Linked DNA regions of Homo sapiens: region 2 is linked to region 1. Evidence: fine-mapped expression QTL. A gene starts in region 1. The other region holds a variant in brackets. All regions are shown on one strand. Distances are from middle to middle. Region 1 holds the start of ZNF446 (zinc finger protein 446). Region 2 holds the start of ZNF132 (zinc finger protein 132).

Evidence for each region. PIP is the estimated chance that this variant, and not a neighbour inherited with it, causes the effect.
Region 2: its variant is fine-mapped to the expression of ZNF446 in whole blood (TOPMed, PIP above 0.99).

What each region holds. Positions count from the first base shown.
Region 1 is chr19:58,474,306-58,479,674 of GRCh38, reverse strand. It overlaps ZNF446 (zinc finger protein 446), which reads right to left and starts at 3,323. Exons shown (of 7, transcript NM_017908.4): 1 at 3,171-3,323; 2 at 2,115-2,496; 3 at 1,849-2,038; 4 at 1,494-1,588; 5 at 1-32. The coding sequence starts at 2,456. ZNF324 (zinc finger protein 324) reads right to left here. Exons shown (of 4, transcript NM_014347.3): 4 at 4,239-5,369. RefSeq lists enhancers at 3,065-3,264, 3,419-3,713, 3,535-3,784, 4,025-4,084, 4,145-4,234.
Region 2 is chr19:58,435,666-58,441,034 of GRCh38, reverse strand. ZNF132 (zinc finger protein 132) reads left to right here and starts at 882. Exons shown (of 3, transcript NM_003433.4): 1 at 882-1,276; 2 at 3,820-3,988. The coding sequence starts at 1,214. ZNF132-DT (ZNF132 divergent transcript) reads right to left here and starts at 587. Exons shown (of 1, transcript NR_186311.1): 1 at 1-587. It also overlaps a transcript of ZNF324B not described here. RefSeq lists enhancers at 1-194, 344-473, 706-1,216. The variant G/T (reference allele first, on the strand shown) is at 2,601.

The DNA of each region.
Region 1 (5,369 bases):
TTCTGTGACCGGTCCAGCAGCCCCCACTCCTCCTGCGGATGTGGCCCATCACTGTAGGCGTCTTTCCACCCCTTCCCTGCCCTGTCTGGTTCACATTCTTACCTATTACCCGGAAGAGTCAGCAGGTTACCTACGCCTCATCTGCCCCTCCTGCTGAGAATGATCTCAAGGTGTGTGTTTGTTAAGTGCAGAGGTTCTCCTTCAGATCACCTGACCAGTGCTGCTGCCAGCACTCATCCCCCTCTACTACACCATCCTGCTCAGAGGGCAGGTTTGGCAGCATCACAGGGACCTGAGTGACTTTATCGAGGAATGAACTCCCTGATTGGGGGTCAGCCCTCCTTGCTGCCTGAGTCCCATCATCTGGGGCTTTGCTGGGTTGGGAAAAATAATCCTGAGGGACAAGCTGTGGCAAGTCCAGGGGCAGGAAGGCGGCAGCTGTGAGGAGCCACAGCTAGAGATGGTGCTGGCTGGAGGTGAGGACACTGGGAAGTGCAGCCTACCCACCCTGCCTCACTTTCTGACTGTGCCATGGGGCTGTGGAGGGAGCCTGGAAGGACTTCTTAGCCTCGAAACACATCTCAACCAGCAATGTTGCTGCTGAAGCTCCCCAGTGGAGTTGTTAGAGGAGCCGGGAGAGGAAAAGACCTTGCTACCCACACTTGGGAACCAAGCGATCCAGGTAGAAGAGGCCTCAAGCTGAGCTTCCAGGCCTAACAGGTGGCCTCTGAAGAAACCCCTAGGAGAGAAGGGACTTCGGGCATTTCCCAGGGAGAGTGTCTCCATCTGGTCTCAGGTGTGGGGGGAGTCCTGCCACAGCTGGTCATCTTCTCCCCTCCCCAGCTACACACAAAAGTTCAAATCCCCAGGTCTGGCTCAGGACCTCTGGGAGCAGCAAACCTCCCAGCTGACTTCTCTGGAGGTGAGGAAGCCAAGCCCACTAGTTCCAGCCACTCTAAACTGGGTTTCCATGGCTTGAGGCCCAAATCCTTTTTTTTTTTTTTGTTTTTGACACACAATTTTGCTCTTGTTGACCAGGCTGGAGCGCAGTGGCACAATCTCGGCTCACTGCATCCTCTGCCTCCTGGGTTCAAGCAATTGTCCTGCCTCACCCTCCCTAGTAGCTGGGATTACAGGCGCCTGCCACCACTTCTGGCTAATTTTTGTATCTTTAGTAGATACAGGGTTTCACCACATTGGTCAGGCTGGTCTCGAGCTCCTGACCTCAGGTGATCCGCTCACCTCAGCCTCCCAAAGTGCTAGGATTACAGGTGTAAGCCACCATGTCCAGCCCCAAATCCTTTTCAATAATAGATCACCAGTCTGTCCCTCTGCCCCAGGTCCTGTGGAGGGGTACAGCTTTTACAGACTCCACTTCTGGGAAGCAAAGAGCCACTAGTCAAGGAGCCTGGAAAACCACCAGGCAGAGGGCAGCCATGGGGACAGTCCCTTCTCACACCTGGGGCCTATACTTCCCACTTGGGGCTGCTCACCTGAATCCTGGGTGGGTGGAAGGATGTGGAGGCTGGTTCTTGGTGTCCATGGTTCCCCTCAGGGGACTGTGCTGCAAGTGGAGGGCTGGAGGGTGCTGAAAAGTGGGGCAGATGGAAGGGTGGTGTCAGGGGCTGCCCACATGAGCCATGGCAGATGAGGAGCTCCTCTGCTGTGTGACATGGCACGTAGCCAGCCCTTGGCTCCTGCCTCCCAGGTCCCCATCCCAGACAGGGACATCCACATTCACTTCAGGAGTCCCAGCCTTGACACACCTCTCCTGGGACTCCCACCCTAGCCAGGAATGTCCACACTTCCTCCAGGAGTCCCTCATCTCTGGTGGGACCCCAACCTCACCCACTTCCTGTCCATCGACATTGGGCTCCTCCTTCACACTGCAGCTGAGCTGGACAGACCCCTCTATTCTGGTGTCCTGGGGACCTTCCCCAGGGGACTCCACTGTCCCTGAGGGGTGGGGGCTCCCAAGTGGTTCCTCTGTCTTCTGGGCTGCAGGGAGCACCTCCTGCTTCAGGACATGGGCTGTGATCTGAGGAGAAGAGGTAGGTCACAATGGCTCTAGCCAGGGTCTATCCCTCCAAGAAGCTGATGCCAGCCACACTCACCCAGCCCAACAGTTGCCCAGGGTCATGCTGCAGTCCTTCGACTAGGGCAGCGGCCTCCTCAGGACTGCCTGGCCGCTGACCGCGCACCCAGGCCTGGATCTCGGGAGGCAGTGTGCCCAGGAACTGCTCCAGCACCAGCATCTCCAGCATCTGCTCCTTGGAGTGTGCCTCAGGCTGCAGCCACTGGCAACACAGCTCACGCAGCCGGGCCAGGGCTTCTCGGGGACCTGCCACCTCCTGGTAGCAGAACCCTCGGAAGCGGAGGCGGGCAGTCTCAGGCTCCTCAAGGGTGGTCTCTGGGTCCATGACGGGCAGGCATGGGGGACCCAGAGGGGATGGCATTCTTGCTCAAGGGGGTGGTCTTGGAATCGTCAAGATGGGCCTACAGAAAAGGAAGGGTCGGAATGTCAGCCAAGAGAATCTGGCCAGGGGAAGGCAGACACCAGGCTCAGCCCAGGGGGCTGAGACCAGGACCAAGTGTACTCTGAGGCCAGAAGAGATAAGGCCAAGAAAGCTTCATGGAAGGAGGAGGGTCACAGGACCCAAACAATGATGGCAAATGAGAGCAGGAGGAAGCCTCAGGGACAAATGCTTGGACGCAAGGTGTCCAGGGAGCTTCCTGGAAATTGCAAACAGTTGGGTCCAGCAGGGGACTGCTGGGAGATGACGCTAAAGAGGTGGAGAAAGACAGTCATCACAGAGTTCCAGCGCCAGGCTGAGGAGCCACAGTGTCTAGCCGAGGTGCGAGGAGAGTGGACCAGGGTGGGCGGGTAGAAGGTGGGGCCAGGCTGTAATGTACGGGGACGAGTCGCCCTCCACAATCTCGGGGAGGTTGACTGGGTGGGACCTCCTTTAGGAATGGCTCTGGGGAGGGGGCACGTGGACATCGTGCTCGCTGACCACAGCGAGCCGTGGGCGACTCACACTGCCGGGGCCCGTGCATGTGAAAACGAAAAGCAAAGGCCAAGAAAAACGGGGCCAAAGCTCCACGTTGCGCGGAGTCGAGGGATGGCCACAGCATCCCGGCCCTGAAGGTCTGCAGTGAAAGACGCCCACCTGGACGGGCCTGAGAGACCAGGCCTGACACCCGGCCTATCCGAGGGATGCTCGAACTTCGGGATCTGTCCCCAAAAGGGGAAGGCAAGAGGGAGGCGTTCCAAGAGGACTTGCCAGGCCCGGCCCCCCGGAACGGCGTTGAGGGTAGGAAAGGCCTGAGCGAAGGCTGAGGTGACGCGCGCGGCCTGTCGGGAAGTGGGCGGGCCCTCCAGGGCGCCGACAGCAGGAGCCGTTCAGGCCCCAGAGGGCGACCCCAAGCCCTCCCACGGGGTGGAAAGGCTGCGCCCACTCTGGCAGCCTGCGCTCACCTCAACCCGGAGCGGTTGCTTGGAGGCCGCTTCCCGGATGTGGCGCCGCACAACGCGGGGCGCCTCAGCCGGGTGTTGCCCCGGCGACGCCGCGCTGACCAATCTCTCGCCTGCACCGAAGGCACCGCCCATGCCCTTTGAACTACATTTCCCATGAGCATCAGCAAGACAGGCGCGACCGTGACCCGCTGACCCGCATTTGCAGCAGCCTCTGACGCCTGAGAGGCGCTCTGTTCCTCTAGGAGGTACGGCAGAGTCCCAGGGTTATATGGTCTCCCTCCGCTCTGAGAGCAGCTCTTCCCGGGTTATAAACTTGCGCGTCTGTACAGTGGGCCGGTTTCTATTGGCAGGTGAGGGGAGGGGGTTTTGCCCAATCAGAGGTGGCGCTTGCTTGGCCCCGCCGCCCCCACGCCATTCCCCGGGCCAGCCCCTAGATAACGCTAGGGCATATCCGCCCGCCTCCAGCTGTTCCCGTGGCAACGTTCAGGAGCGTTGCCTCGACTTCCGAAGAGGCTGGAAGTGGCGGCCCAGTGGTTTCCTAGGTCGAGTAGTTCGCTGGGACTCGCTTCCAAGTGGACCCGGGAGAGGCGGTGGTGTAGAAGACCACCCTGAGCCTGGGCTTTCTCCCGCCAGGAGGGTGCGAGGGCCATCTTTGACCTCTGTTAAGCGCCCTAAGGAGGTACCGACGGTTGTGACCGCAGTCTCTGACGTCTTCAGATGTCAGTCCTACAAAGTCGGGGGTGGAGGTTTCCCTCCAGGCTGATCGGACATGCTCAACCGTTTATTTACCTTTGAATTTGGGGAGCAGAACTAGCCAGGGTGACACTAGTTTCTCCCAATAAGCAGTGTTACAGTTTTCTAAATCTGTGGGGTCAGTTTTGCTTCCACACTTAAAAGTGGCCGAGCCATTACTTAGTCAGTCCTAAATTACACCGCCTGTTTTGGTTTCTTTGGATACCTGGGAATCCCTGCTGCCTGCTCTGGATGAAGAGCAGTGGTCTTGATCACCGATTGGAAGCACCGAGCATGTGCGTGGATGAGACTTGTCAACTCGGAGCTTTCCAACGGCCTCCTCAGGTTGTTTTTGGGGATGAGGTGCTTAGGCCTTTTCTCTGGGACTATGCAGAGTCCCAGAAGGAAAAAAAAACAAAAACTTTCACCCTCCACCATGTGGGGAGAGCACTGGGGCGTTAAGGGCTTCTTCAGTAGTTGTTCCCCAGGCAGCTTTGATATAGGTCTCCCGTCTCTGGGCTGCTGGTTCTCAGCCTTCTGCGGTTCTGGAGTCAGCCTGGTGGGAACTCTCTCCTCTTCGCCAAGTCGCCACGTAGTATTTTGCCTTCCCTAACTTAGTGACAGCTCTCACCCACTTCTAGCTTAGGAATGCCATTGCTCCTGACTCCTCTGTCACCATCCTCATACTTGTGGGTTATGTGTTTTAAATACTCCCCTCTGTGGTTTCAGTGGATTTCTGAGCCCAGTGAGATGCATGTGTTCAGTCTGACCTTTTGACATAGAAGCCCAGGGATACTTTTACAGTCACTACCTATTCAAAATTAAGAGCAGAGGGGGAGGTTGGAGGGAGGTCAGCCGAGGGGCCAAGACCTGCATGGAGGTGGGAGCCTAGGTTGGGGGCCACTGATCAGTCATGGGTTTGGGGAGGGGAAGATTGGAGGAGGGTGGACAAACTGAGGGACAACAGGGGCACAAGCAGACGTGGAAAGGAACTTGATGGAGGGAGGCGGCTGGTGGGAAGACAAGGTAGGGTACTGAGCCCAGCCTAAGGGGTCAGGCGGGCTCAGGGCAGAAACTTCGCTCAAGAAGCGTCTGTCAGAGGCATAGAAATGATTTCACGTGACTCTCTGGGTATCTACTTGTTTGACAGATGCTTTTG
Region 2 (5,369 bases), 39 kb after region 1:
ACAAACTGGATTCTGAAATGGTGACCCCCAACCTGTGAACGCTCCACACTGTTCAGTGGGGCCCGCAGAGGACCTGGGGCAGATACTTCTCAATCGGAGACTTAGGACAATGGTGCTGAGTCCAGCGGAGTGGGTGCCAGGAGACCTTTGGCGCACGTTCCATGCCTACAGCCGGGCGCACACTGGGTCAAGACCTCCCAATGCGTAGCTTTTCTTGGCCTCGGCCTCGCGCTCCCTAAAGCCAACATAACGCCAAGGGCGACGACTCCCGAGAGCCGCGGACACCTCCGCGCGGTGCAACCTGAGGGTCCCACTGGGCCGGCTTTATCTAAGGCACAGGGTGGGGAAGGGGGGTGCGGTGTTGTGGGGGGCGAACACTGGGCTCAGGGGCGATATTCGCCGCGGTGGGGGCGCTTGTATGTCAAGAAGGCGGAACTTCCCCGACTCTCGTGCCTTCCTCGCTCCTGTTTCCATGGGCCCAGGGAGCCTCCAAGATTCCGTCCCTCGCCTGACAACGCGGTCCCTTCAGAAGCAGACAAAATCGAGAAATGCCAAAGTGATGGTCCGAGGACGACGACGGAAGTCCCGCTGCCAGGCTGTGATTGGCCAGCGTCTTACACTCCGCCCGGAAGTGCCTGTCTCCTCGGCTGCCAATGGCCAGCCCTGAGGCACCGCGAGGGTCCTTCTGGATAATGTAGTTTGCGTTGCCTGAGCAGCGACGCAATAAACGCCATTCCTCAATCACCTTGGCAACGACCTAGCAGTAGCGTGACGGGCATAGGGAAATAGCGTCATAGACGGCGGGGATCCTTGAGCCAATGAAAGCTCGGACCAGTGGCAAGTCCGAGCTGTCATTGAGAGGCGGGACTTCCGGCGCCGCCATTGCGGTCCTCATTTTGCTGCTGGTGGGTTGGGCTACAGCAGGCCTCTGGAGCCACACCAGGGCACGGGAGTGGGTGCAGGGACCGTCACCGCGCCTTCACACGCACCATAGTGCCCGGCTAATTACTCTGCTTTTATGAGCCAAGGTGTTCCCGAAAGTGGAGCCAGCGCCACGCGTCTCCAGGGTCTCCATACCCAGCCTTCGTCCCTGCGGTGCCCAGAGGCCTTGCGCGCATTTTGCATTTGGGAAGACAGGTCCTGAGTGCGACCGTCACCCAGCGGAAGTGTGAGGGTTCGGCCCAGCGGCAGGGCTAGCCCTGGGCCTCCTGTTATGGCCCTGCCCAGCCCACAGGTTCTAATGGGGTTGCCAGCGTTGCTGATGGGCCCGGCGCAGGTAAGTGGAGTGTGCCCCAGGCCCTCACCCGCTGGGATTCCGGCCCTCAGGATCCTGAAGCCCAGATAGAGGGGATGTTGGTGTCCTGGGACTCTTGATCGTGTCCTGTCCTCACACGTGGGTCCTGGGCCCTGCCCTGGGAGTCACTTACCCTTACCATCCTGAATCCAGGCAAGGGGTTATATCGAGGGATTCCCATTTCTGGAATCCTGTGGAATGAGATCTGGAAGGCTGTCCCAGGGACAGTGACCAGCATGTGTACCTTGTTTAGTGGTGATGAAATGGAAGCATTCTGGGGACTGCCGGTCTCCATTTAGTCTGGTGGAAACAGGGAAGGGAAACCAATAGTTAGGCCTGGAATGGCAGCCTGAGGAGCTGGACCTCTATTCTGATGGTGGTGGGAGCCATGGAAGGTTTGGAGTAGAGGAAGTAGGTGCTCTGACTCCAGTCTTAACAGACGCCCTATGGATGCCTAGTGGGCAGCAGACTGGAGGGATGGTGATGGTGGAGCAGGAAGGCCAGTGAGGAGCTGACAGATGTGGTCCAGATGTGTGCTTTGGGTAGCTGGACAGAGGGGTGCCCGTGGAGGTAGGACAGATGGTTGGCTTCTGAATCTGCCCAAACTGGGCCATGGATTACCTGATGTGGGACAGTGAAAGAAAGTGAAATGTTAAGATTGACCTAAGGCTGAGTGCAGTGGCTCACACTTGTAATCCCAGCACTTTGGGAGGCCAAGGCGGCCAGATCACTTGAGGTCAGGAGTTCAAGACCAGCCTGGCCAACGTGGCGAAACCCCACCTCTACTAAAAATACAGAAAAATTAGCCAGGACATGGTAGTGTGCACCTGTAATCCCAGCAACTTGGGAAACTGAGGCAGAAGAACTGTTTGAATCTGGGAGATGGAGGTTGCATTGAGCTGAGATCGTGCCACTGCGCTCCAGCCTGAGTGACAGAGCGAGACTCTGTCTTAAAAAAAAAAAAAAATTGCCGGGCGTGGTGGCTCACGCCTGTAATCCCAGCACTTTGGGAGGCCGAGGCAGGTGGATCACTAGGTCAGGAGATTGAGACCATCCTGGCTAACACGGTGAAACCCCATCTCTACTAAAAATACAAAAAATTAGTCAGGCGTGGTGGTGGGTGCCTGTAGTCCCAGCTACTCGGGAGGCTGAGGCAGGAGAATGGCTTGAACCCGGGAGGCGGAGCTTGCAGTGAGCCAAGATCGCGCCACTGCACTCCAACCTGGGTGACAGAGCGAGACTCTGTCTCAAAAAAAAAAAAAAAAAAATTGACCTTAGATCTTTCAGATGTGGAAGTTGGTGTGAG[G/T]AGTAGATTTCAGGGGGAAGATAAAGAGTTGGATTTTGGCCATGTTGTATTTGAGATGTCCCAGACACTACCAAATTGAGGTGCCAAGTAGACCACTAAACATGTGATTATGAAATTATGTCGGGTTTAGGCTGGAAACATCCAAGGGATGGATGCTTGTGTGTGGACACTGCATGCAGTTGTGGGTTGGGTTCAAGATAGTGGCTGAGCCTCCTGAGCAGAGAGTAGGTCTAGGACAACAGTGAAGCATAGCGGCAAAAGTAGGATGAGAGTTGGGCTTTGGTTTAGGTTGATTTGCTTCTCTACAGCTCACTACATTGTTGCGGCCATCCTTCTTGTGGTCAGGGCATGTTATCTCTTCTTAAATAGGGTCCTGGGGTTTTTGTCAGGCTGGTGGAGTGGCAAGATCAGAAAGGGTCAGCCTAAGCTGAGTCCCCAAGCCAAGGTGGGGGCCAGTGGATCTTGGATTTGAGTGTTAGGAAGAGCAAGGACAGCTATGACTGGGGAGGAGACAACACATACAAAGGCAAAGATATCAGAGGGAAGAGATATTTGAGATCTGCTTATGGTTCTGGGCAGCTGATGGTTGAAGGAACAGGGCTGGCAGGGGAGGCATTGACTTGAGGGGCTATGACTGCCTCTTGCAGTGGGGTTTTTGGAGCTCTGTAGCTGGCTTGGACCAGGAATGGATCCCGGTTGCATCTGTCAGGTATGCCATGTGCATGGTGAGATGCTAGGGAGAATGCCTACAGTGTGAACAGGGAGGGGTTGGAAATATAAGAACTGTATGGTCTGAGGAGTGACATGTAAAGGTGAGAGAATGTGAACCATTGGGCCCATGGCCCTGGTACAAGAGGCTTAAGAAAGGGAAGCCCAAATTTTCTTATGTTTGGGAGGTATGAGCCAGAAGACACAAGGAAAATTGGCCAGCAGGAGGGAGGAGGAAGCATCCATCTGCCCACCTGCCTATTGTTCCTCTAGGTTGGGTTGGCCTGGATACAGTGACCAGTGGGACTACTAGGAGAGAGGGGCACCATTAATTCCAGGGCATGTTAGGTGGGGGCCCTGAGGAAGAAGATAAGCTGTGGATGGGTGAGTAGTGGGTGGACTGAGAGGATCATAAGAAAAAGAGATATTAGTGGTAGATGTATCAGGATTCTGAGTCACACAGCAAGGTCCTGCATATTTCCATTTGACCAATTGTTTGTTTCTTTGTCAGCATACTTCTTGGCCCTGTGGCTCAGCTGTCCCCACATTGAAGAGCATGGTAACCTTTGAAGATGTGGCTGTATACTTCTCCCAAGAGGAGTGGGAGCTCCTTGATGCAGCCCAGAGGCACCTGTACCACAGTGTGATGCTGGAAAACCTTGAGCTTGTGACCTCACTTGGTAATGCCCTGTCTCAGCATGGTGATGACTACCTTATGCCTTGTGTCTTTTCCCCATAGAAAGCTCTGTTCATCCCAAAGCCAGATCATGGGTACTGCTTCCTTCTCGGGTTTCCTGTTGTAGGTGCTGGGGTGCTGAGGTTCTGCTGTGTGTACTTCCCCTGTCTCTCTCTGAGCAGCCTCATGAGCTTTCCTAATAGCTGTTGCCCAGGAGCCTTGTGGAGGCAAAGGTTGGGGATCAGACACCTCCAGTCTGCCTAACAGATCCCACTGAGATTCACCAATCCCTGGTCGGGTTACCCAGTATGAGGTCATGCCCAGATTCTGTCTCTTTCCCAATGAGATTTTTTTTTCCTTTTTTTTTTTTTTTTTTTTTTTTTGAGATGGAGTCTTGCTCTGTCCCCCAGGCTGGAGTGCAGTGGCGTGATCTCAGCTTACTGCAAGCTCTGCCTCCCAGGTTCACGCCATTCTCCTGCCTCAGCCTCCCAAGTAGCTGGGACTACAGGTGCCTGCCACCACACCCAGCTAATTTTTTTTGTATTTTCAGTAGAGAGGGGGTTTCACCATGTTAGCCAGGATGGTCTCAATCTCCTGACCTCGTGATCCACCCACCTCAGCCTCCCAAAGTGCTGGGATTACAGGCGTGAGCCACCACGCCCAGCCCCCAGTGAGATATTTTTTAAAAACAGCTTTATTAAGATAAACCATACAATTCACCTTTTAAAGTACACAGTCTAGTGATTTCTATATGTTTTCACATGGTATAATCATTGCTATAATGTAATTTTAGCATGTTTTCATCACCTAAAGAGAAACTGTAGGTCCTATTAGCAGTCCCATTAGCTGTCACTCCCCATGTTCCCTTATCCCTTTCCCCCCGGTCCTAGGCAACCACTAATCTACTTTCTGACTATATAGATTTACGTTTCCTAGACATTTTATAGAATACTATGTATTTTTCTGTGACTGGCTTTCTCTTAGCATGTTTTTGAAGTTCATCAATGTTGTAGCATGTATCAATATTTCATTCTTTTTTATAGCCAAATATTCCAGTGTATAGAAAGACTACAGTTTGTTTATCCATTTACCAGTGGATGAGCATTTGGCTTGTTTCCATTTTTTAGGTGTTAGAAAAAAATGCTGCTATAGAAGCTGGGCAAGGTGCCTATAATCCGTCTACTCAGGAGGCTGAGGCAGGAGGATCACTTGAGCCCAGGAGTTTGAGACCAACCTGGGCAACATAGCAAGACCCCATCTCAAATTTTAAAAAAATTCTGCTATGAACAGTCCTGTACACATTTTTGTGTGGATGTTTTTAGTTCTCTTGTGTAGCTCTGTAGAAGCAGACTTGCCAAACTGTTTTCCAAATTGGCTGCACCATT